Linked DNA regions of Homo sapiens. The protein of the gene in region 1 interacts with the protein of each later gene in a pairwise test. Each region holds a gene or a part of one and is shown in the gene's direction. Other genes may lie near its edges.

What was found.
Region 2: the proteins of KRT75 (region 1) and XPOT interact in binary tests that used the Homo sapiens proteins (3 or more experiments, as listed by UniProt).
Region 3: the proteins of KRT75 (region 1) and TJAP1 interact in binary tests that used the Homo sapiens proteins (3 or more experiments, as listed by UniProt).
Region 4: the proteins of KRT75 (region 1) and GMCL1 interact in binary tests that used the Homo sapiens proteins (3 or more experiments, as listed by UniProt).
Region 5: the proteins of KRT75 (region 1) and PM20D2 interact in binary tests that used the Homo sapiens proteins (3 or more experiments, as listed by UniProt).
Region 6: the proteins of KRT75 (region 1) and KIF9 interact in binary tests that used the Homo sapiens proteins (3 or more experiments, as listed by UniProt).
Region 7: the proteins of KRT75 (region 1) and CPNE7 interact in binary tests that used the Homo sapiens proteins (3 or more experiments, as listed by UniProt).

The regions. Positions count from the first base shown.
Region 1 is NC_000012.12:52,427,872-52,431,371, reverse strand, and holds part of KRT75 (keratin, type II cytoskeletal 75), read left to right. Parts: intron 1-666; coding exon 667-831; intron 832-2,628; coding exon 2,629-2,754; intron 2,755-2,895; coding exon 2,896-3,116; intron 3,117-3,500.
Region 2 is NC_000012.12:64,414,392-64,417,891, forward strand, and holds part of XPOT (exportin-T), read left to right. Parts: intron 1-515; coding exon 516-598; intron 599-2,306; coding exon 2,307-2,363; intron 2,364-3,500. UniProt on the Homo sapiens protein: Mediates the nuclear export of aminoacylated tRNAs. In the nucleus binds to tRNA and to the GTPase Ran in its active GTP-bound form. Docking of this trimeric complex to the nuclear pore complex (NPC) is mediated through binding to nucleoporins.
Region 3 is NC_000006.12:43,476,429-43,480,369, forward strand, and holds the start of TJAP1 (tight junction-associated protein 1), read left to right. Parts: upstream 1-1,141; 5' UTR 1,142-1,200; exon of another isoform or gene 1,201-1,658; 5' UTR 1,659-1,804; intron 1,805-2,230; exon of another isoform or gene 2,231-2,290; intron 2,291-3,941. UniProt on the Homo sapiens protein: Plays a role in regulating the structure of the Golgi apparatus.
Region 4 is NC_000002.12:69,867,660-69,871,159, forward strand, and holds part of GMCL1 (germ cell-less protein-like 1), read left to right. Parts: intron 1-39; exon of another isoform or gene 40-142; intron 143-2,059; coding exon 2,060-2,205; intron 2,206-3,500. UniProt on the Homo sapiens protein: Possible function in spermatogenesis. Enhances the degradation of MDM2 and increases the amount of p53 probably by modulating the nucleocytoplasmic transport.
Region 5 is NC_000006.12:89,149,055-89,152,554, forward strand, and holds part of PM20D2 (xaa-Arg dipeptidase), read left to right. Parts: exon of another isoform or gene 1-210; coding exon 211-359; intron 360-2,731; exon of another isoform or gene 2,732-2,852; intron 2,853-3,500. UniProt on the Homo sapiens protein: Catalyzes the peptide bond hydrolysis in dipeptides having basic amino acids lysine, ornithine or arginine at C-terminus. Postulated to function in a metabolite repair mechanism by eliminating alternate dipeptide by-products formed during carnosine synthesis.
Region 6 is NC_000003.12:47,272,800-47,276,299, reverse strand, and holds part of KIF9 (kinesin-like protein KIF9), read left to right. Parts: intron 1-809; coding exon 810-975; coding exon of another isoform or gene 976-992; exon of another isoform or gene 993-1,072; intron 1,073-2,641; coding exon 2,642-2,748; intron 2,749-3,500. UniProt on the Homo sapiens protein: Essential for normal male fertility and for progressive motility of spermatozoa.
Region 7 is NC_000016.10:89,585,758-89,589,257, forward strand, and holds part of CPNE7 (copine-7), read left to right. Parts: coding exon 1-28; intron 29-912; coding exon 913-999; intron 1,000-1,285; coding exon 1,286-1,345; intron 1,346-1,798; coding exon of another isoform or gene 1,799-1,837; exon of another isoform or gene 1,838-2,917; coding exon 2,918-3,051; intron 3,052-3,500. UniProt on the Homo sapiens protein: Calcium-dependent phospholipid-binding protein that may play a role in calcium-mediated intracellular processes.

The DNA.
Region 1 (3,500 bases):
TACTAAACTACCCCAGCTCTGATGCTTCTCCCCCGAACTCCCTTATCCCATGGCAGGACAACATCTAACAAGGAGAGAGTACTGATTCCCAAATTCTAGGACACTGGGTAATTTCCCAAGGAATCAACACATACCTGCTCCCTTCCCCTTCCCTGAAAAGTATTAAAAAAAAAAAAAGGCAAGCTGTCCCTCAGCTCATTGGTCAGGGGGCTTCCTACCCTTTGAAGATGCCTCATTCTGGGCGCTACCCCTCCAAAGGCAGAGACCTGGGTCTGTGGAAAGGGAGAGAGAGGTAGAAAGTGATGGAGTCACACTGTGCAGGGGGAAGCAGTGTCCCAGATGTCCCCAATGCTCTTAAAGAAGCCGTTTATGTTGGCATACTGAACAGACACGTGTCACATTCAAATCTATGTAATTCCAATTCAGAGGATGCTTACCCACCCTCATGCCTGGGGAAAGCACACAGATGGGAGCCTTGAGAAGTAAGGCTGGGAAAGATTTTCACCACACTGATCTTTTGGGATGAATGGGAATACCTAGGGAATAGCTGGGAGAATCTGCCAGGAATACCAAGGAAAGGATTCCTGACCTAGATGGGTAGTTAACCACGAAGATTTAAGATTCTTCATCTTATGCCTTGGTGATGCTGAGTTTACTGCCCTGCAGGAGCTGTCCCAGTTGCAGACCCAGGTCGGTGACACATCCGTGGTGCTGTCCATGGACAACAACCGCAACCTGGACCTGGATAGTATCATCGCCGAGGTCAAAGCACAATACGAGGACATTGCCAACCGCAGCCGGGCCGAGGCTGAGTCCTGGTACCAGACCAAGGTGAGCATGGACACCTCCATGAGAGGTTCCAGGGTTAGTGTTCTCTGAGGCTCCACATTATCACTTAACTCAGCCTCAGGAAACGTGTGAGCACATTCGTTTATTTCAACTTAGCAGGCATGTCTTTGATGCTATGACAACTTAGCTTGAAATGCATGTGGAAACCGAACCAGACACACTAATACATGGTCAGCCCAATGCTGGGAGCTCAGGACATCCACTGGCCCCACATTCCTCAAGATCTGGGTGGGAGCAGGGTGAGACACCAGGACAACCGAGACACAGTCATGAAGCAGTTTCTAAAAGGCTTATTTATTCTCTATATATTTTCTGAGCTCCTGCTGTATGCCAATCAGGGTTACAGGGTTGCAAATAAATAAACTGCAAACAGAGAACCCAAGCTCTGGGAGGCCATGAAGTGAATGGACAATCATGGAAGGGAAAAGATAGCATGAATAAAAAGCTTCCAGGAAGACATGGGGGCTTTGTACAGTTGGGAAGCCATGAGGGACAAAAGATTGCTGAGGAGTGGGGAGAGGTTTAAGGCTGAACAAGGAGCTGGCAGGCAAGAACAAGCAAGGGAGTTTATGTCAGGAAGAGGAAGGCTGGGATAAACACAAACAGCTACTGCCCAGAGCTCAGACAGCCGCAAAGAAGTTTGGCTTTGCGGGGTACAATTGACCCATGATACCAGCTCCCTGTCAAATCCAGACCCCTCTTGGGGCAGCTTCTCACCTACGAGCAGGTTCCAACTCTTTCCCTGCTCCATACGTTGCCTCATCCCTTCTGGTCAGGAGTGTGGTGGAAAGGAAGGTGGGTAGCAGGGACCAGGGTTCCACAGGGCAGAGGCAGCGCCTTGACGGTGAAAGGAAACATGATGCACTTAACCCCAAGGTGAAGTGGTTGAAATCGATAGCAAACGATTCCTCATGTTGTTGGGTTGTTGCTCCATTTAATCATGTATACCTAGAAGCGGGAACCTGAGCTATTCAGCACTTTCAAGAACCCCACAGATCTTGACTCTGGCAGGGGATCTCCTTTTGTCAGGGAAAGGTGTAGGTTTCACTTCAGTCTGCTGGAGGAGACAGGGTGTAATTATTGCTCTTAAATTCACATGTCCTGGATATGCACCATTAGATTGAGAACTACCTGAGATTGGGAATACTTTTACAAAGTCTTCAAAATTGTGCCTTCCACAGCCTCTGCACCATCCCACACCATTCCCCCATATCTCCTCCCTGTTTCCCCAGCACTGGTGTTTGGAGGGCTACCAAAATTCATGGGCACAGTTGGTCTGGATGCACGCTCTGTGACCAGGAACTACCCAGGGACCTTGATCAAATCACCGTCTCACTCCTAGAACTCACCATGTTCCTTCCCTGACCCAGAGTCTTCATGCAGGCTGTTTCCTTTGTCTGGAATGTTCTCCCCCACAACTGGTCACTTAGGTCCCTCCTTCTCATCCTTCAGACCACAGTTCAAGCATCTCCATCTCTGGAGAGACTTCTCTGACCACCACTTCCCACTTCCAAATCTAGGTCAGATTCCTTCATTACACTCTCCCAGGACCCTGTTCATTTCCTAAGGGCACTTATCTTAGTGTGGAACTATACATTTGATAATATGCTAATTCAGTTAATGTCTATGTCCCCCAATAAACTGTAAGCTTCAGGGGGAATGAGTGAATGACCAGGAATGAATGAGCCTGCTTGTGGCACCCAGGGTGGGTCTGTGTGCACAGCGAGTGCCTGGGCCAGGCATTTGACTCAGTGACTGGGTTTGCTCTGGTTCTCTCAGTACGAGGAGCTGCAGGTCACCGCAGGCAGACATGGGGATGACCTTCGAAACACCAAACAAGAGATCTCTGAAATGAACCGCATGATCCAGAGGCTGAGAGCTGAGATTGACAGCGTCAAGAAGCAGGTAAAGATTTGGCAGGGCCAAGAGCTCCTCAAATGCTCATTTCTTCTGGGCCTTTCTGCCATCTTTAAGAACTCCTCCCCAAGAAGCACCACACCTCCATGGGCTGTCAGCAGGACTCATGGCTTCCTCCTGTCCTTACAGTGTTCCAGCTTGCAAACGGCCATTGCTGATGCAGAGCAGCGGGGAGAACTGGCTCTCAAGGATGCACGGGCCAAGCTGGTGGACCTTGAGGAGGCCCTGCAGAAGGCCAAGCAGGACATGGCTCGGCTCCTGCGTGAGTACCAGGAGCTGATGAACATCAAGCTGGCCCTGGACGTGGAGATCGCCACCTACCGCAAGCTGCTGGAAGGCGAGGAGTGCAGGTGAGGCAGATGCACCAACTTCATCCTCAAAGCAAGTTGAGCTCACCTCAGCTTCCTGGGCATTCCTAGGGGCTCGGGCTGTTGCAGCCCCTTCTTCTCCTGGAAGAAAATGCAGTTCAGAATTGGGCTATGGCAAAAAAATAATTTTAATTTCCTTCCAGGCTAGTAAATCATTTGAGGTGCAACTACAGTTAGCATCCCCATAGAAACCTAAAACCTGATCAGGTCTAAGTAACTGAATTCTACCAAAGGAGACATTTGGTTACATGGCAGCTCTCGAAATGTGGTCTAAAAGGCCATGGGCTGAGAACAAACAGTCCTAGGATTTGGGCTTACAGATCTAACACTAAGTAGCTACATAACCTTGGGAAAGTCAGTCTCCCT
Region 2 (3,500 bases), about 12 Mb from region 1:
ATGATATAATTAAAGACTTGAAATACTCTCCTGTGTAACAGTAGATCAGATAAGGTACACAGTATGTTTTATCTTTTATAATCACCGCTTTAATAGCAGATGTGCTATTAAATAGGAAAAGTGCCCTTCACGTGCCATTTTATAATTGCATATTATAAAATGATCACACCCTTAACTCATCCTCTGCAATTTCTCAGTAGTATGGCACTTGACAAAGCACTTGCTCTCATTCTTCATAATAACCCCATGAAGGCTGCGGGGCATTTTTGTGTTGTTGCTGCTGTAAGAAAACAGGTTTGATTATCTAACTGATGGAATTTATATTTATTTAACCTATTTTTAGGAATGACCCCAAGTTGCATATATTCGGAAGCCTGCATTTAATGTTTTAACTGTTTTTCTATTAAGTTTACTGATTTGTTATAGGTTTGCAACTCTCAGAATATTTTGTTTATATTAGCAGGGCATTGAGATTGTTTATTCTAAATGCATTTTTTTGTTTTGCAATCTTATAGGCCCTGGCCTATTTTGAGCAGTTAAAAATTTCCCCAGATGCCTGGCAGGTGTGTGCAGAAGCTCTAGCCCAGAGGACATACAGGTAATTAAAAACAAAATTTGCATGACAATTTAAATTTCTGTGGACATGACAGGACTGTGAAATTTACCTGTATTTGGAAAGTGTTTTCATAAAAACATTTTATGACTTTTTTTTTTTTTTGCAAAGCCATTAACATATAGTCATTCCATGTAGAAATGAGAAAAGTAGTAAACCCAGTTTGGCCATTTCAGAATTAACTTTTCAGTAAAACCATCCTTTGGTATATATTGTGTACCTGTCACCAGATCCCAGCTGGAATAAAGTGCAGTAAAAACTTCCTTATCTTATGATTGAGGGTGATAACTGCTTTCCTAAAACTTTGGTAAAGACGGTGATTGTAAATGATATATATCTTAATTTTAAAATTATTTATTTATTTTATTATTATTATTATTATTTTCTTGAGATGGAGTCTCGCTTTGTCGCCCAGGCTGAAGTGCAGTGGCGCAATCTAGGCTCACTGCAAGCTTCGCCTCCTGGGTTCTTGCCATTCTCCTGCCTCAGCCTCCTGAGTAGCTGGGACTACAGGTGCCCATCACCATGCCCGGCTAATTTTTTTGTATTTCTTTTTGGTGGAGACAGGGTTTCACTGTGTTGGCCAGGATGGTCTCGATCTCCTGACCTTGTGATCCGCCCGTCTCGGCCTTCCAAAGTGCTGGGATTACAGGCGTGAGCCACCGTACCCGGCCTATATCTTAATTTTTAATTTTAACTTAAGGTATATAATCATTCGGTGACCAATCTTTTAATATTGGACCACAGTCTTTATCTTTGTATACTAACTAGCATTCACTTTATTCGTAGGTTGGTCACACCTGTAACCCATCCTCTACAATTTCTAGCATGGGTCTCTGTACAATGAGTGACGATCCATAGATTTTTAAGATATTTGTCCCCGCCTCTCAAGTCTTCTGGTTATATAGGCCATGTCAAATATGTACAAGATTTTTTCCTTCTGCAGTGTGGCTTTCTATGAAATCTTTCTAAAGCATTCAACTAACTTTTTACGGAAATAGGAACTCTCTTATACTCACTTCATTGGCAGATTGTTGGTCTCTAGAAGATCTTTGTCAGTGTTTATAGCTGGCTAACTGCAACTCTGCCACTCCCCTAGAAAGACAGTTGGAAGTGGGTAATTGGTGTGTTGACTTTTGCCCCCATCTTGTATAAGCAAGGGTACCATATTTGTAATTTAGTGTCCTGTACGAAACTTTGAAGTTGGACTGACAGTCCATGTGGCCCTGCTTGTTTTGGATTTGGCTACAATAGAACTACTGGGGTTGAATTTTAAGCAGGACTTGGACGACCATCTTTACTTTCACTCAGACTCTGTCTGTTCTGCCATTTGTAATTTTACACCTAACCTGTTATTGTAAAATGAAGGGACTGTTCCAGGAATCTTAATATCTGGAATTTAGAGGGATGGTTTGCTGCTTACAAAGCATTGTATTCAAGGTGCATCTTAATATCTTGGTTAGTTTGCTTGTCAGATTTAATGGAAATTTTAAATATTGTGTAATATTTAGAGTTCTCATAGCTTTTTAAGTAAATGGATTTTAATGTCATAAAATGAGACCAGTAAGTATGAAACAAGCCAAAGGTCTAGTTTGAGAAACTTTTCTGCTGTATTACTCATTACTATTTTGCCTTTGATTTGTTTTCCTCAGTTCATATTCTGCTTATCTCATTTTCTTTTTTTCTTTTTCAGTGATGATCATGTGAAGTTTTTCTGCTTTCAAGTACTGGAACATCAAGTTAAATACAAGTAAGGCTTTTCTTACTGTTTTGACTCAGATTTGCGGGGAGAGGTCATTTTTTTAATTTAATGTTTTTCTTCCATAAGGAAACCATAATACAGGTTGTAAATTCACAGTGTATATGTTATATCCAGGTTATAGATACGTTTTGATGTACCCCAAAGTGTTTTAAAAGTGCTGAGTTGGCCAGGTGAGGTGGCTCTCGCCTGTAATCCGAGCACTTTGGGAGGCTGAGGCCGGTAGATCACTTGAAGTCAGGAGTTTGAGACTAACCAGCCTGGCCAACATGGTGAAACCCCGTCTCTACAAAAAATACAGAAACTAGTCAGATGTGGTGGCATGCACCTGTAATCCCAGCTACTCAGGAGACTGAGGCACGAGAATTGCTTGAACCTGGGAGGCGGAGGTTGCAGTGAGCCGGGATCACACCACTGCACTCCAGACTGGGTGACAGCGAGACTCCGTCTCAAAAATAAAAAAAGTGCTGAGTTTGTTGGTTACACATAAAAATCCAAGGCTGGGCGCAGTGGCTCATGCCTATGATCTCAGCACTTTGGGAGTCCAAGGCAAGAGGATCGTTTGAGCTCAGGAGTTTGAGACCAGCCTAGGCAACATAGTGAGACCTCATCTCTACAAAAATTTTTTTAAAAAATTAGCCAGGCATGATTGCGCGCTTCTGTATTCCCAGCTACTGGGGAAGCTGAGGCCAGGAGGTTGAGGCTCCAGTGAGCCATGATGGTGCCACTGCACTTCAGCCTGGGCAATACAGCAAGACCTTGTCTCAAAAAAAAAAAAAAAAATGAAAATCCAGATATTTCACAGAAAAATCTAGATTTCCAGCTTTTCTGGAAAAGTCAGAATATCTGGTAACACCAGGCCTGTTTTTCTACATGACAATTCTCTCTTAGAGTTAAGTAGCTGCATGGGCACTTGTGTTCAGAATCTCTGACTTACTAATTAAGCAAAATAACAAATCACTACTGAGAGGATTCCTAGTTCACCTATTGGTTTATTCTGTAGATCACAGACCACAAAACATTTTCATTCGAAAAATTGTGTAGCCATCATTTGTTTCAACATGAACAGAATCACAAATTAAAGATTGATATTGATGCCCTACCTGCCACTCTTGTCCTTATCTTTAA
Region 3 (3,941 bases), on another chromosome or scaffold:
CAAAAATTAATTAATTAATTAAACAAACAGAATAAAAAAAATCTATTGAATACCTACTATGCCAGGCATTGTTTTAGACACTGGGGATACTGTGATGAGCAAGAAAACATCCCAGACCTCTGGAGTTTGCTTTGTAGTGGGGAGATGATCAATAAACAATAAATATTTAATATAATGTCAGATAATGATAAGTACTATGAATGAAAACATTAAAGCAGGGTAAAGGAGAATAGGGATGCTGATTTAGATTGAGTGGCCAAGGAAGGCTTCTCTAAAGTGATGACACTTGAGCAAAGACACAAATGAGAGTCAATATTTGGAGGAAGAACATTCCAGGTATGGGGAATAGCAAATTTAGAGACCCTGAGGCAGAAATATGCTTAATGCATTGGAGGAAAACATGCCATTTATTCATTAGGCAATTATTGTGTGCCAAGCACCTGCTAGGGAGTATGAAGATGCAATCAAACATAGTTTTTGCCCTGAAGAAGCAGCAGGGCAAAAGTGGTATAACATGTAAATAAATAATTACACTGCACGGGACAGCTACAGTAAAGCTATGTACAAGTTGCTAGTGATGCCCAGCAAAAGGAGCACTAAAGGGAAATCTTTCTGGGGGAGGTGACATTTTAGCTGATGGTTTGAAGGAATAGGAGGAATTGATGATGCAAAGGAGGAGGAGAGAGATTAGACATCTTAAGGCCCGATGTCCTGAAAACAAAGGACAATTTGGGAACCTGAAGTTCCCAGGAGAGGCAAAAAATGAGGCTGATGAAGGTGGAAGAGCCTGGATCATGCGGATCTTTGAATGCCAAACTGAAAAGCTGGTTTTATTCTCTGGATGACGGGGAACCAGTAGCACGATTCTCTCTCCCACTGTATCTTTGAGATGTGTTCCCCTATTCTTTTTTTTTTTTTTTTTCTTTCAGTACTGGATTCTTTCCCCGCTTCCCGCTATTGCCCTGCTCCTGACACCTCCTTCCTTCTGTGGCCAGTCCTCCAATCCCTGCTTTCAGGAGAGCCCCATTTTTCACCATCACCTACCTAGTGTCCCACCTCCCCAACCCGAGGCCCCGCCCCCATGGCCCCGCCTCAGATGACGCGACACGCCAAGTGCGTGGGGATTCCCGCGGCCCTGGCCACTACCCGGCCTGCCCCGCGGCAAGATGGCGGCCTGAACGCAGCTGGCAGCGGCGGAAAGTTTGTTGTGGGGTTGGAGTAGTCGGGCGGGGAAGCCAGAGTTGGGGAGGATTGCGGGGGCCCTAGCCTGTAGTAGGGGCGAAGGGGGTACTGGCTCCAGGGTTGAAAAGAGGAGATGGAATGGAGTAAGGTCCGAGGCGGAGAGGAAAAAAAGGAGCTGGGGCGGACCGGGGCCCTAGGGTCCAGTGGCAGCCCTAGGGGAGGGGGATTTGGGGGCGGGGCAGCCAGAAGTAGGTGTTGTGCAGGCCCTGGAGAAGCAGAGTCACAAGTTGGAGGAAAATTTCTTAGCCGCGAATAAAGAAGCCTGGAGCGTGGGATAGAGGCCCGACTGTATCTGGCCGGCCAGAGGGGAAAGGGATCTTTCTAGTAGAGTGGGATAGTGAGGAAGAGAGATCTGGAGGATGCCGGGCAGATCTGCTAAGGAGGGAACTAAAGCCAGTCAAATGACCCTCTTCTAGGCTTAGATCAGCCTTTCCACAGCTGTTAGCAGCATCTGCCCCAATTTCAGCTGAAGATTCAGGTGCCCCAGGGACTGGAAGAAATTACAGTGCCTACTTGGAAAGAAGAAGAGATAGCGACTTGCCCCAGTCCAACCCCAGAGCGGGTAAGGTGGCTTCCAGTGACAGGTTTCTGGCTGGCATGCTCCCTGGGAGGAGGATGCATGGGCTTAGAGTGATGCCAAGAAACATTTGGTCTGAAAAGGGCTCACTTTTATAGAGTTTGTCCTTTGTCTGAGGTCCTTAAGTTAGTGTTTGGCGTAGATTGCAGGCTGACTTTTGAGAGTTGGTGTAGAATTAAGCCTTGTGTGCCTTCACCTATGCAAGTAAACCTGGACAGAGGCCTAGAGACCAGGCCGAAGGATGTTAACACATCCCTGTCACAAGCAGTTTCCTACATGCTCATTGTTTCTGCTTCAATATCCCCATCACTTCTTCACTTTGGCGTCCTGCCTGGAAGTGGAGATTTGTGGGTGACAGATGGTGGGGAGTCACGAGAAAACAAATTCTGATCGTGTTCACTGACCATTTAGGTACCTGCTGTCACTGACTCCTGAATTCATTCTCGCTGTGTGTCTACTTTTGCTTTTTTGGTAAGAAGGGCTCATTAGTGTTCCTCTGGGGATGTGGATTTTGGTGGGGGTATCAGAGGTGAGGGAAAGGCAGGTTGGGATTAGAGAGAAAAAATGTAGATCAGTTTCTGGTAAGAGATCAAGTGGACTGATGTAAAGCTCTGGGAATGTTTAGCACCGCACTGCCTATCCTTGAGACCCCTAATATTTGAGAGCTACTTTACAGTTGGACAAGTGTGGTGATGCAAAGAAAGGATCATGGAACTTGCTCTTTTCTTTTCTGGTAGTTTTTTTCTCTCCTTTGTAATCTTCCCATCAAACCACTTTTGAAAAATATCAGTCTCAGTAGCCAAACTAAGCATGGCCTGAGAGGTAGTGGATTTGGTGTTGGAGAGAAAGGAAAGGGACTGGAGCCAGAGAACACAGTGAATGTGGCCTTCACTTCCTTTGGTGAGTGTTTTGCCCTAGCCAGAGTTGGGAGTAGCCTTCTTATTGAAGCCTGCTTCAGGATCAGCATCGCTTCATGGTGGACTAGGATGGTTTGATCTAGAACTCTTCATTTACTGTCTGCTCTGTACCTGTCCCCCCAATCAAAGGCTTACTCCAAACAGAACAACCCAAGTCACTGTTACTAGGTCAGCTTCAGTACCTTTAGGTATTTGAAGAACTGATGATATGTAGCTGTGACTCTGTTTCTGAAGGTTGAGAACCTCCTTTTTCTGAGGACAATTCGTGCCCCCTTTCAAATTGTAATTGTAATCACCCAAGGGTAGTGTGGTGAACACACATAACAGTTAATAGCACTGACTCTGAGCCCGGCCTAGTGGCACATACCTGTAGTCCCAGCTACTTGGGATACTGAGATGGGAGGAGCACTTGAGGCCAGGAGTTTGAGGCTGCAATGCACTATGATGGCACCTGTGAATACCCATTGTACTCCAGCCTGGGCAGCGTAGGAGATGCAGTCTCCAAGAAACAACAAAAAAAGCACTGGCAGGGTGCAGTGGCTCACTCCTGTAATTCTAGCATTTTGGGAGGCCGAGGCAGGCGGATCACGAGGTCAAGAGATCGAGACCATCCTGGCCAACAAGGTGAAACCCCATCTCTACTAAAAATACAAAAATCGGCTGGGCGTGGTGGCATGCGCCTGTAGTCCCAGCTACTCAGGAGGCTGAGGCAGGAGAATCGCTTGAACCTGGGTGGTGGAGGTTGCAGTGAGCTGAGATTGCACCACTGCACTCCAGTCAGGTGACAGAGCAAGACTCCATCCATCTCAAGAAAAAAAGCGTCTCCAAAAAAAAAAAGTCTGTTTGACTTTGCCATTTGTAGCTCTGTGACCTTTATTAATGGCATAGCTTTGTATGCCTCAGTTTTCTTATCAATCAAATGTGGGTAGTAAGAGTATCTATCGCATAGGGTTGTTGTGAAGGTAAATTAGTTAATACATTAATATGCTTACTCAGTGCCTGACAGTAAGTTTTAGTTATACTAGTCAGATCTCAGCACTAATTTCTGTTTCATGGTTGAACCTGCTGTCTCTTTATATAGATAGCATCTGCATTGGTTTGGGCTGCTAGCCTGATGTTAAAGAGATGAAGCAGAGCTTTTGGATAATACAGATTTTTTTGTCGTGAGAATATCCTCATTAGGCTATTTAAGGCAATGTTAAAAT
Region 4 (3,500 bases), on another chromosome or scaffold:
ATGTTAAACTCACCTGGCTAAACCCCAACTCTTGTCAAGGGTTGCACTCCATGCCTGCATCCAGACAGATGAATGTGATTAAAGACAAACACCGTACCCCATTGGGTTCCACTTGAATGTGGTAACCATGAACTTGAAGTAGGTTAGTGCTGCATCATGATCTGTCTGCATTTTCCTAGTGAATTGATCCTCCCATTAGCTGAGGTAACTCATACCTTCTCTCCTTAAAAGGGCAATGCTCCCACCCTTATTCTTATCTGATGGCCTTGCTGCCTACTGCAATGAAAAGAGAATCTGTACATCATCTTACCAGTAGTTCTGCCAGTCTACCTGCACCTGTAGCTATGCGCTATGCATTTCATCTTATTAGAAAAATGAACTGCCTACTTCTATCTTAGTCCATTCCCTCTCTTTGTACTGGACTCTATCCATGCTCACCTATTCAAAAGCTTTGCTCCAGCCAGGCACAGTGGTATGCACCTGCAATTCCAGCTACTTGGGAGGCTTAGGTGGAAAAATTGCTTGAACCCAGGAGTTAGAGTTCAGCCTGGGCAATATAACGAGACCCTGTCTCTTTAAAAAAAAAAAAGCTTTGCCCTTACAGTTATCACCTCTACTAGGGCAGAAACTGTATGTTATTTACTGCTATGATTCCATTGCTTAGAGGAGTGCCTGGCATATAATATGTGCTCAATAAATATCAGTTAAATACTGAATTGCAATTCAGGGTGTCAGCCAAACACTTGAAGCCCTAACTACTTCTCTGTATCACACTACCTTATCTGATACTCTCACATTAACTATTAGCTGATAGAATAAACAAACTCGTGAACCCCATGATGATATTTAAATAACCCAGTTGTGTGTTACTTGAGTTAGAGTATTTTATTTTTATTTTTATTTTTATTTTTTTTTATTCTTTTTTGTATTTTTAGTAGAGATGGGGTTTCGCCATGTTGGCCAGGCTGTTTTTGAACCTCAGACCTCAGGTGATCCACCCGCCTCGGCCTCCCAAAGTGCTGGGATTACAGGCGTGAGCCACCACACCCAGCCCTTAAGAGTATTTTTAAAGCAAGGTGGATTTTAATGGGCTCTTAATTACCTTAGTGCTCTAGAAACTCTTAGTGCTCTAAGCTATATACCCACTTAGAGTTGCAGTGAAAAGCCTTATTATTGCTGGGTGCAGTGGCTCACGCCTGTAATCCCAGCGCTTTGGGAGGCCGAGGCGTGTGGATCACAAGGTCAGCAGTTCAAGACCAGCCTGGCCAACATAGTGAAACCCCGTCTCTACTCAAAATACAAAAAAAAAAGGCCGGGCACAGTGGCTTACACTTTGTAGTCCCAGCACTTTGGGAGGCCGAGGCGGGCGGATCACCTGAGGTCGGGAGTTCGAGACCAGCCTGACCAACATGGAAAAACCCCGTCTCTACTAAAAATACAAAATTAGCCAGGCTTGGCGCATGCCTGTAATCCCAGCTACTCAGGAGGCTGAGGCAGGAGAATCGCTTGAACCCGGGAGGTGGAGGTTGTGGTGAGCCAAGATCATGCCATTGCACTCCAGCCTGGGCAACTAGAGCAAACCTCTGTCTCAAAAAAAAAAAAAAAAAAATTAGCCGGGCGTGGTGGCAGGGACCTGTAGTCCCAGCTACTTGGGAGGCTGAGGCAGGAGAATCGCTTGAACCCGGGAGGTGGAGGTTGCAGTGAGCCAAGATCATGCCACTGCACTCCAGCCTGAGTGACAGAATGAGACTCTGTCTCAAAAAAAAAAAAAAAAAAAAAAAGCCTTATTATTTATGGTAGAATTGCAGTATGGAGAGATAAGGAAACTGATCATGAAGAGGAAAGTAGCTTAGAGAATTATGATCATTAAGGGCAGCTTTTCTAGCTTAGATAAATAGTTTTGGGTGGTAAGCCTTAAGAAAAAGTCACTGACAAAAAGTCGACCACCCATGAGGGAAATACTTGGAATGAGTTAGAGACAAAAAGACATTTTGAATTTTTTATTTTCTACTTGCTAATATGATAAACTGAAATAAGTCTTCTCTCTTGTATTTTTTAGTACTGCTGGCGTTGGACAGGTTTTAACTTCGGCTTCGACCTACTTGTAACTTACACCAATCGATACATCATTTTCAAACGCAATACACTGAATCAGCCATGTAGCGGATCTGTCAGTTTACAGCCTCGAAGGAGCATAGCATTTAGGTAGGATGAGATTTCCCCACCCCACTCCTCCTCACTCCAGAGAAAATATAAGAAATAAAACCTTGATAATTTACACCAACATTAGTAGAACTTTGGTAAGCTACAGTATATGTGGAAGTGGTAGGAAATGACGAGGCTCCATTCCTGTGAAATCTATTGTTAGTAATCAGAATCATAGGATCTAGTATGTCAGGGAGAATGAATAGGCTGGAATATATACCAGTAGGGAATATCAGCCTTGAAGTCGTTGCCTTGTTGCTATTCCTAGCAAATAAAAGATCCAGACTGTTGAAATATGTAGCAAGGTATGTTTCCAGGAAAACACATATTATCCTTAACTTTTTAAAGGATTTAATATGTTAAATTTTGCCCAGTAGTTGCTGGCAATCTTTTTCTGAGAGGATACCAGAAGCTGACAAATTGGACAGTAGCTTAATGAACATGATTTAAAAGTCATATATTTATACTTACCTTACACCAAATACAAAAATTAACTTAAAATGGATCAAAGATCTAAGCATAAGAACTGCAACTATGAAACTCTTGGAAGAAAACATAGGGGAAAAGCTTCATAACAATTGATTTGGCAGTGATTTCTTCCATAAGACACCCAAGCACAGGCAACAAAAGAAGCAGTAGATAAAATTGGACTTCATCAAAATCACAAACTTGTGTATCAGAGGACAGTGTCAAGACAGTGAAAAGGCAACCCATGGAATGAGAGCAGATATTTGTAACGCTACATTTGATAAGACATTAATACCCAGAATATATAGAAAACTCCTACAACTCTATAATTTAAAAAGAAAACTCAACTCAGCTCAAAAATGGGCCAAAGACTTCCATAAACATTTCTCCAAAGAAGATATATAAATGGCTAATAAACACATGAAAAGATGTTCAACATTACTAATTAGGGACATACAAACCAAAATCACAATGAGCTATCACTTCACACCTATTAGGATAGCTATTAGTAAAAACAGAATAGAAAAAAAACAACAAAAGTAACAGGTGTTGGCAAGGATGTGGAGTATTTAGAACCCTTGTGTACTGCTCGTGGCCATGTAAAATGGCACAGCCACTATGGAGCATGGTATGACACTTCCTCAAAAAAATTAAACAGAATTACCATATGATCCAGCAGTTTCTCTTCTATAGACCAGAAGAATTGAAAATAGGGACTTAAACAGATATTTTTGTATACTTATGTTCATAACAGCATTATTCACAATAGCCAAAAGGTGGAAGCAACCCACATGTTCACTGACAGATGCTAGAGAAACAAAATGTGG
Region 5 (3,500 bases), on another chromosome or scaffold:
ACTTTGCACCAAGTTGGTATAACAATGTACATTTTGTGATTAATTTAGCACCATTTGTTGATGCCCATTGCGTAAGCGTCATAGAACAAAACCTGTCTTAATAGGTTAAGGACTTTAATGTAGATTGTGAATACATATGCAGGTGAACCTGTTTGATATATTCCTATGAGGATTTTGTTGTTTTTCCCTGACATGAGTATTTCCTTCTAGGTAGTTGTCCTGGGAACCCCTGCAGAAGAAGATGGTGGTGGCAAAATTGATTTAATTGAAGCAGGGGCTTTTACAAATCTTGATGTTGTTTTTATGGCCCACCCATCACAAGAGAATGCTGCTTATCTACCAGATATGGCTGAACATGAGTGAGTAATCAAGTTGAAGATAAACTTCTTAGGGGAACACAGGCTATAGAATACTTTTATGTCTAAACCAGAGACGAAAACTCCACATTTGTATATTTAAGAAGTAAATTGAAAGACAATAACAAGATGTCTTGATCTATGGAGTGACATTTGGCAAGCCTCTTCTAATTGAGATTCATTATGGTGTTCATAATTGGAGTATTAAAATAGTAGCACTTAGAAACCATAGGAATAACAAACATGTTGACAATTAAGTTCTCTTTTGAACTGTCAATAATCTGGTGTCTGGAAAACATCTGTCCTTTCATATGAAATTGTCTTTGCAACTGAATAGATTTGCGAGAGATCGTTCTATTAGCTATGGGAAGAAACCACACTTATCCATTTTATTTACTTTAATTTGAGTTCTTTGCAAAGAGGATAAATTATGTCCTGAGAGAGAATATGGAACATGAGTAGCTATGGTTTTTGTGGAACTTCTCATTCTGTGCTTTTCCGATTTGTCTGGTGCTGAAACCTTTTATTTGTCTTTCTTTATGTTGAAGAACTCACTTTTTAGTACCTAGGAGCACACATCATTGAAGTGGTTTGGATTTTTTATACCAGAAATTTCAACCATAGTAGTAACTATAGTAGTTAATGGTCCAGGCACAAGGAGCCAGTGCTCAGCTGCTTCAGCAAAACCATGTGTTTTCCTCAGAAGTAGCTCGGTACTGAGGGAATGATAGCAGAACCATCACAGCAGTGCTTCTAGATTGTACCCGGGTATCCCACCTCTTAGCACCTTACCAGGCCCTGTTTTCAAAGGGTGATCATTTTAACTATTAGGGTATCTTCCTTCTTATCACTGGAAATTGGTACTGTGGCAGTAGGAGGAATCTTTGAACTTTGGTTTCAAGGGTGGTGGTAAACTAGTCCATCTCTAGAAAACACTGGGGATTAGAAATCTCTGCCCTTGCCTTTGACTAGAAGGGGCCTGCATATGCAGGCAGGCTCTGCAGCTCATTACCCTTCTGGGACTTAAGGTTAGGCTTCGTGGTCTTGGTTCTGAAGTCAGCGCACTTGACCCCAGACCTTCTCCTAGTATCTGCCTTCTTAGCTTTCTCACTGATCATCTCTTTTTTTTTTTTTTTTTTTTTTTTTTGAGGCTGAGTCTCACTCAATTGCTCAGACTGGAGTGCAGTGGCACGATCTTGGCTCACTGCAACCTCCGCATCCCAGGTTCAAGTGATTCTCCTTCCTCAGCCTCCTGAGTAGCTGGGATTACAGGCGTGCGCCACCACGCCCAGCTAATTTTCATATTTTTAGTAGAGACAGGGTTTCACCGTATTGGTCAGGCTGGTCTTGAACTCCTAACCTCAAGTGATTCACCCACCTCGGCCTCCCAAAGTGCTGGGGTTACAGGCATGAGCCATCACACCTGGCCTTCATTGGTCATCTTTTAAGATAGAAAAGAGAGGTCAGGTGCAGTGGCTCACACCTGTAATCCCAGCACTTTGGGAGGCCAAGGCAGGTGGATCACCTGAGGTTAGGAGTTCGAGACCAGCCTGGCCAACTTGGCAAAACCCCATCTCTACTAAAAATACAAAAATTAGCCAGGCATGGTGGGCACCTGTAATCCCAGCTACTTGGGAGGCTGAGCCAGGAGAATTGCATGAACCTGGGAGGCGGAGGTTGCAGTGAGCCAAGATCGTGCCATTGCACTCCAGCCTGGCCACCAGACAAGTGAAACTCCATCTCAAAAAAAAAGAAAAAAAAAAAGAGAACAAGATCAAGAATTCATTTTTTTTTAAATTACTAATCCACTTTTCTTAAAAATTCTTTTTTTTTTTTTTCCGAGAGAGTCTCGTTTTGTCACCCAGGCTAGAGTACAGTGGCGCAATCTCAGCTCACTGCAGCTTCCGCCTCTGGGTTCAAGGGATTCTCCTGCCTCAGCCTCCCATGGACCTGGAATTACAGGCAAGCACCACCACACCCAGCTAATTTTTGTATTTTTAGTAGAGACAGGGTCACCATGTTGGCCAGGCTGGTCTTGAACTCCTGACCTCAAGTGATCCACCCGCCTTGGCCTCCCAAAGGGCTGGAATTACAGGCATGAGCCGCCAGGCCCAACCACAAATTTCTAATGAATAAGATAAAGCAATCCTGCTGACCACCTTTCCCAAATCCAGTCCTTTTTCTAGAGGTATGTATCCTTTTCAGAGTGTTTTTGGTGTACTTATGGGACATAAATAGAATCCTGTATAAATTGTGAAAGAAGGTTTTCCTCAAGTATTCCACTCAATATATTGTTCTGGCTTTTTAAAATTAAATAGTATGTCTTGAAAATAATTCCATATAATCCTTCTCGTTTTTATAATATTTATCACCAGTTGTGATGAAATTCCGGTTTTGCCAGGCCAGGTGGCTCACACCTGTAATCACAGCACTTAGGGACGTCAAGGCAGGAGAGTCTCTTGAGCCCAGGAGTTCATGACCAGCCTGGGCAACATGGTGAGAACCTGTCTCTACAAAAAAAAATAAAAAATTAACTGGGCATGGAGCACTCCTGTGGTCTCAGCTATTCATCTGTGGGAAGCTGAGGCAGAGGAGGATTGCTTGAACTTGGGAGGTGGTGACTGCAGTGAGCTGTGATCACGCCACTGCACTCCAGCCAGGGTGACAGAGGGAGATGAGTACCAAAAAAAAAAAAATTCATTTCAAGGTCATGGTGATAAGATATATATCAAGGAAATAACAATACAGTATCCTGAAATCTAATACGTGTTTGATGTTTTTACTTGATTTTTGTCCTGCTAATAGAATGTCTGGAATCAGTTGAGAAGAAATATCATAAGCATTCTAAGGACTCCTGAATCTAACCCATTAAAATAAGTCCAGATTGGTTTTCTAATCACCTAAATGTGGGTATTATTAATCAGGCTTAAAAAGTGTTATCAAAGCACGTCAATCACAGAGCTTTATAAGTAACTATTCAACACGCAATCCTTTCTCTAATCTTTTTTTTTTTAATTGTATTAGAGCAGTTAGACTGGTGTGAGAACTTAACAGTTTATTAAAATGTAAAATATTAGTGATGTAGGCATTTTGGAACATAATAAAATATTGGATATTGGTCAGGAACAACTGCTTTAATACTAG
Region 6 (3,500 bases), on another chromosome or scaffold:
ACAGGCGTGAGCCACCATGCCCGGCCAAGTCTGTCTTTCTTCATCTTAATTTTTCTCTCTGTAGCCAGGTATAGCTCCTGCATTAGGGCAGTCAGTGTAAGATTTCAGCAAGAGTCTTTACATCAGAAGTTCTCATCAAGAAGATTGGAATCTACCACTGACCTTACCCAGTATGTCCCTAAGCCAGCTGCTACTACAATGGCTTACTATGAAGGGGCATGCATCTAAAAATCTGCTGATGACACCCTCAATTTACTCTTAATTCCTATGTCTGAGAAGTCCATAGCCTTCTCTGTGGCTTTCATTTCATCATCACTCACTTTGGCTCATAGCGTGTGTGTGGAAGTAGATGTTCACCATAATGCAGAGCTGAGGGAGGCCTCACTGCCAGCAACCAGAGCAATGAGGCTGGAGCCCAGGCCTCTGTTACCAGGCTCACTATTCCCTCTGGCATAATTCAAGGCCTCCCTATGCTTATGGAATCTATCTAAAACTTGTTTAATAAGAACATGATAAATTTGACCTCATATCATAGGTGGGGAAACAAAGACAGCACCGTGTGAACTAGGGTTAGAGGTGCTAAAACTAGAAAGTGCTCCACTCTCCTGATCTTTCCATCTCCCTGCAGGAACTCTCTTCTCCCATCCCAAAGAATTCATCTGGAATATCAGCCCCTACGTGGGAGTCCCCATTCATCCTACAGTTCATTTCCTCTGTTCCCTCCAGATTAGGCCTCAGCTATCAGTGATTTTTTTTATACCCATTTTTGAACAAATAACATTTTTTTCTTTCTCACTCTTTTTTCCTAGAGCATTGATATTCACTTAAAAAAAGACATTCGGAGAGGAGTTGTCAATAACCAACAGACAGACTGGTCGTTTAAGTTGGATGGAGTTCTTCACGATGCCTCCCAGGACTTGGTTTATGAGACAGTTGCAAAGGATGTGGTTTCTCAGGCCCTCGATGGCTATAATGGTAACTTAATTAATTAAATGTTGTCTTATGTAAGAACCTGAGGAGTAAGAGATGCAAATATTTTATGGTGAATAAAATAAAAGCTCACTCACTATCATTTGTATGTTTGTCTGTCTCCATGTTCTTACGTTGCAAAACTTACTGTTTGCTTGTTGACATTGTGGGCATGGCTTGATCCAATGTCCTGGGATTCTACCTTCATAGGAAAATTAAAAGACTATGGCTCTCTATAGGTCACAGGGGTTCAATTATCCTGTTTCAAATCTCTCAAGTATTAGTTTTGAAGATACGTCTTTATGACAAATTTGATGGAGTCCAAACATTTGTCTCTCAGCTTCCTGCTAGGAGCTATTTTCATGTATTCTACCAACACAATCAATGTACAGTTGATATTCTAGTATAGGATTGTATAAAAGAATATGTCACAGTTTGTAGACTTTGCCATCTGGTGGCTGCTGACTAGGATGTTCCCTGTTTTGCAAGTTTAGGTTTTATATTTAAAAGTGCATTGAGTGTAGATGCTGTAATTTATCCTGAATGTGATACGTAGGTGTGGTCCCCACTGACTTAAGGAGGTTCTCTTTTGGTTTTCATGATGCTCTGATTGTGACCTTGAGGAGGTGAAGACAGAGGAACTAAGGCCCAGGGAGATGAATAGTCTTGAGCACTGGTGCTGTGGAACCACAAATGGGCTCTGATTTGCAGCTGAAGTGACTCCTTCCTGTTCATTTGTGTTGGGTTAATAGACACCATTTCTGGCTCCAACTCAGATGCTGAATCAGGATCGCTTGTGTAAAACCTGCCACCAGTCCCAAGAACTAGAGTGTCTGTGTGACAAAGGCAAAAAATTTTCACAGCCCAGCATTGCCTGGGCAGATCTGCCATGTAAATGCCCATGGGCAGCCTGTGGGATGGGGTCTGGCTCAGGCTGCCCATGCTAAGGGGAAGAACAGATAGGAGCCGGAGCTCAGGGTGACTGCATGGTTTGTGTCCCGGAGCCTGGTGGTGATGGTAGACCTAAAGGATGTTGAGAAGTGCAATGAAAGTCTTCCCAGGGTGGGCAGTGGACCAGATCAGGGCCTGATCATGGTGGTACATTTCTGGAAGTGACATGGAACCAACTAGGAGCCCTGTTTCATCCTGCAGGAATTTGTAGTCTACAAAGAATTCTCACCCTTGACAGAAAATGCCCTTTCCACTCCATCTCTTCCTGGAGATTTTGAAAGCCCCTCTTTGCCTCTGTGGGGAAGTTGATGCCTCCTGCCAACCCTGAGACCCTGGCAGTTCATAGCTGTGCTAGAGAAGGGCTGGAGTCTAATGCTCCTATCTCCCTCCTCATCTTTTTAGGAAAAGTTCCAGTTCCTCTGTACCCTGAGATTCCCTGTCCTTCTCAGAAGCCCTAGGGCCGGATCATCTCTTGGTGGAGGGAACAGCAGAGCATTGTGGGGACCACAGATTCAGGGCAGATGTCCTTGTTTTGACCACTTTTGTCCCTGTTCCCCTGCCCACCCATCCTCTTCCATGGTGGAATTCCTGATGTTCTTGGCTGCCCCCACTGGCCATCTTCATGCAAAGGGCCCTGGCTGGCACCAGGCATGCTGGGAGAGGGGAGAGTTATCCTTGGAGCTATTTTCCTGGATGTCACCGTGTTTTGAAATGTTTGCAGGCACCATCATGTGTTATGGGCAGACGGGAGCTGGCAAGACATACACCATGATGGGGGCAACTGAGAATTACAAGCACCGGGGGATCCTCCCTCGTGCCCTGCAGCAGGTAGAGAGTGGGCCCAAGGGTGGGATGCCACACAGGTTCCCTCTCTCTGCCATAGATGTTACTGACCCTGGGCCAGCTACTAGAGACAGTGGGGACCAGGCCTCAAAGGAGTTGCAGTGGATACTGGTACTGGAGACAACATACACAGGGCTCTGGAGTCAGTAGAGTCAGGGGCCTCAGGAAACCAGGAGGTTGGGTGTCAGACTCTGAGCCATACCCACACTGAGCCTGTTTCCTCATTTGGGAAGGAGGGAGTCAGGCATGCTAATCAGCCTCTTGCTGCTCCAGTGGTCTGTGATCCTGTAATTAAGGATTTGGAGGTCCTAATCATTCTCTTTCCTGGTTTTAATGAGGGGCATATAGACCCTTGCAGAACTTCCTTACTGGCCTACTCTGGCTTTTTTCACCACCACAGCCCCTGAAAGATCAAAAGCAAGAAGGAGGGCATGACTTGAGCTTTCAGGACTGTGTCAGCCCGGGGGGTCTCAATAGCATAACTGAAGATAAGACAGAAGGGCCTTCCTTTGGGCCCCACTAGCCTGGGTTCTGTAAGGACCCTCTGGTCGGAGGTAGGAGGCAAAAGCTGCCAAGAGGCAGCTTTACAGCCCTGTCCTATAAGAAGTGTTATAGGACAGGATTTTTTGCAGCCCTGTCCTATAAGAAGTGTATACATTCCTCTAGTATGTGAACCATCCATGCTCCTGTTTTTGGAGCAATACCCTTAATATCCCACTGTCAAAGCTTCAGTATCT
Region 7 (3,500 bases), on another chromosome or scaffold:
GATGCAGAAGGCCTTTGAGGAGGGGCAGGTGAGCAGGACGGGGTAGGGGGTCCTCCAGGGAGGGTCAGGTGGGGGTGGAGGGGGGCCTTCGGGGAGGGGTAGGTGAGCAGGACTGGGGGGGTACCTCCAGGAAGTGTCAGGTGAGGAGGTGGGGGGTGGGGTAGGGGCCTCCGTGGAGGGGCATGTGGGTGGGCACCTCTGGGGAGGAGCAGGTTGGGGGGGCCTTTGGGGAGGTTCAGGTGAGGGGGGCCTCCAGGGAGGGGCAGTTAGCAGGGGGAGGGGGCATTCAGGGAGGGGCAGGTGAGGGGGGCCTCTGGGGAGGGGCAGGTGAGTCGGGGGCACACCTGGGCTACGCCTGTGTTGGCCCTGCCACAGAGGCTGTGAAACCCTGTCCCACTGTCCTGATGGGGTTGTGGGGAGTGGTGACAATGACTTGTTATAACCAGAGAAGGCTGAGGATGGTGGACCCTGGTGCTGGCTCCTGAGGGGTCATAGCAGGGGTGGCCCCCATCAGGTTCAGCTGGACATTTCAGGCACCATCTGGGTCTGGGCACAGGGGTGGTGGGAGGTGGGGCCAAGGGGTGCCCTCCCCTGTGTCTGCCCAGCCCACAGCAGCCGGGTGAGGGTGCAGTGGGGAGGCCACCCTGGGCCCTGCTTCCTCCCCCGTCCCTGGGCCTCAGTGTCCTTGGGCTTAATGACAGGGCCATGCCGGGTGGGGGATGCAACTCCCATCCCTCTTCATTCCCGTATGACCCACTCTGCCCCTTCCTGCTGCCCTGCAGCAGTGCCCTCCCCTCCCCTCCCCACCACGGGGCCCTCTGCCGTCGCTATTGGGGATGGTCTTGGGTAGGGTCTCCCTGGTAGGTGTTCAGAGCCACCACTCTGGGGGGCCTCTGCTTGTTCCTGCCCCAGGCCCAGTGGGACTGTGTGAACCCCAAATACAAGCAGAAGAGACGCAGTTATAAGAACTCAGGAGTGGTCGTCCTGGCTGACCTCAAGGTGAGAGGTGGCTGTGCCCGAAGCCTCCCCACCCACAAGAGGGGCTTCCGCTGCCTCCCTCTGATTGTTGGATGGACCCTCAACCAGAGGCCTGGTGGGCCCCAGCACGTCTGGGGAGGGGCTGAGAGACGGGGAAGGGCGAGGTTGGGGAGAGAGGATGGGGGAGAGGAGAGGAGGGTGGCACCCCAGAGGGACTGGGCTGCCTGCGGGAGGCAGGCCTGGATCCCAGCTGGCACTGGCCTCAGTGTCCCTGGCGGGGGTGGACGCTGACTCCGCCGGCCGGAAGTTCCACAGGGTGTACTCCTTCCTGGACTATATCATGGGCGGCTGCCAGATCCACTTCACCGTGAGTCCATGGCCCCGCCCCATGCCGCCCCCTCAGTCCGTGGCCCCGCCCCGCCCCGCCCCCTCAGTCCGTGGCCCCGCCCCTCCCCGCCCCCTCAGTCTGTGGCCCCGCCCATCCCCGCCCCCTCAGTCCGTGGCCCCGCCCCTCCCGCCCCCTCAGTCTGTGGCCCCGCCCATCCCCGCCCCCTCAGTCTGTGGCCCCGCCCATCCCCGCCCCCTCAGTCCGTGGCCCCGCCCCCGCCCCCGCCCCCGCCCCGCTCCCGAGGGGTCCCAGCCTGGCGGGTGAAAGGGCACTGGCGGTTCCCCGTGAGCCGATGTCTCCATGCGCGGCTCCTGGGGGTCCTCCCTTTTGCGCAGGCGAGGAAACGGGCTTGGGGTTCAGGAAGCAGCCCCAAGCCCGCCTTGGGAGGTGACATCACCAGGGCTTACCTTCCACAAACACATTTAACAACAGACAAAACGTGAACGAGGAGAAACTGGAGTGAGCGTTTGAGTGAACCAGCCACAGTCTCTACGTGTCATCCAAGGAGCCCGGCACAGACCCCGTGTCACCCCCATGTCACCCGCAGACCCCGCGTCACCCATAGATACGCACACCCCGTGTCACCCCCATAGCACCCCCGTGTCACCCACAGATACACGGCCCCCGTGTCACCCGCGTGTCACCCACAGAAACACGGCCCCCGTGTCACCCACAGATACACGGCCCCCCGTGTCACCCGCGTGTCACCCACAGATACACGGCCCCCGTGTTACCCACAGATACACGGCCCCCCGTGTCACCCGCGTGTCACCCACAGATACACGGCCCCCGTGTCACCCGCGTGTCACCCACAGATACACGGCCCCCCGTGTTACCCACAGATACACGGCCCCCGTGTCACCCACAGATACACGGCCCCCCGTGTTACCCACAGATACACGGCCCCCCGTGTCACCCGCGTGTCACCCACAGATACACGGCCCCCCGTGTTACCCACAGATACACGGCCCCCGTGTCACCCACAGATACACGGCCCCCGTGTCACCCGCGTGTCACCCACAGATACACGGCCCCCGTGTCACCCGCGTGTCACCCACAGATACACGGCCCCCGTGTCACCCGCGTGTCACCCACAGATACACGGCCCCCGTGTCACCCGCGTGTTATTTGCAGATGCGCTGGTTCGTGTTTTGTTGAACGAGCCCCAGAATGGCTTTGGGAGAAGCCAGCAAGTGGGAAACGTGGGGGGACCCAGACCAGGCTTGGTCCACTTAGGCCCTGCCGGGGAGGGTGGTAGAGGGGTTGGGCGGCCACTAAGAAGGATGGGCGGGGCCCCCACAAGGCCAGGGTGATCCTGGTGGGGTGTCCTCCCGGAGATCCAGGGAGCCTAGGGGCTGGCAGGTTTTGAGGAGACCTCTCCTGGCCCTGTGTAGCAGGTGGGTCAGCCCCAACAGCAGCCCCCCAGCCCTACCCACCTACGCGACCCCTGACCCTGAGTCCTGGCCACTCTGGGCGTGGTTTCTCTACCTGTCAGGAGCGGGTTCGGGGAGCCCCGGCCCAGCACAGCTCCTGGCTCCCGGCCCACTGCAGGTGGCCATTGACTTCACCGCCTCCAATGGAGACCCGCGGAACAGCTGCTCCCTGCACTACATCAACCCCTACCAGCCGAACGAGTACCTGAAGGCACTGGTGTCCGTGGGCGAGATCTGCCAGGACTATGACAGGTGCGCCCACCACCTTCCCCTCACCCCCTGGTCTCCAGGTCAGCTATGACAGGTGCGCCTGGCCGTCTTCCCCCTCACCCCCCTGGTCTCCAGGTCAGCTATGACAGGTGCACCCGGCCGGTTTTCCCTCACCCCCCTGGGCTCCAGGTCAGGCCTCGGGGCACCATGAGGTGGGCACTGTGAGTTTGTCAGACTGTGAGGGGCCGGGCGCGGTAGCTCATGCCTGTAATCCCAGCATTTTGGGAGGCCGAGGCGGGTGGATCACCTGAGGTCAGGAGTTTGAGACCAGCCTGGCCAACATGGTGAAACCCCATCTCTACTGAAAATACAAAAATTAGCTGGGCGTGGTGGCAGATGCCTGTAATCCCAGCTACTCAGGAGGCTGAGGCAGGAGAATCACTGGAACCCGGGAGGCGGAGGTTACAGTGAGTCAAGATCACACCTTTGTA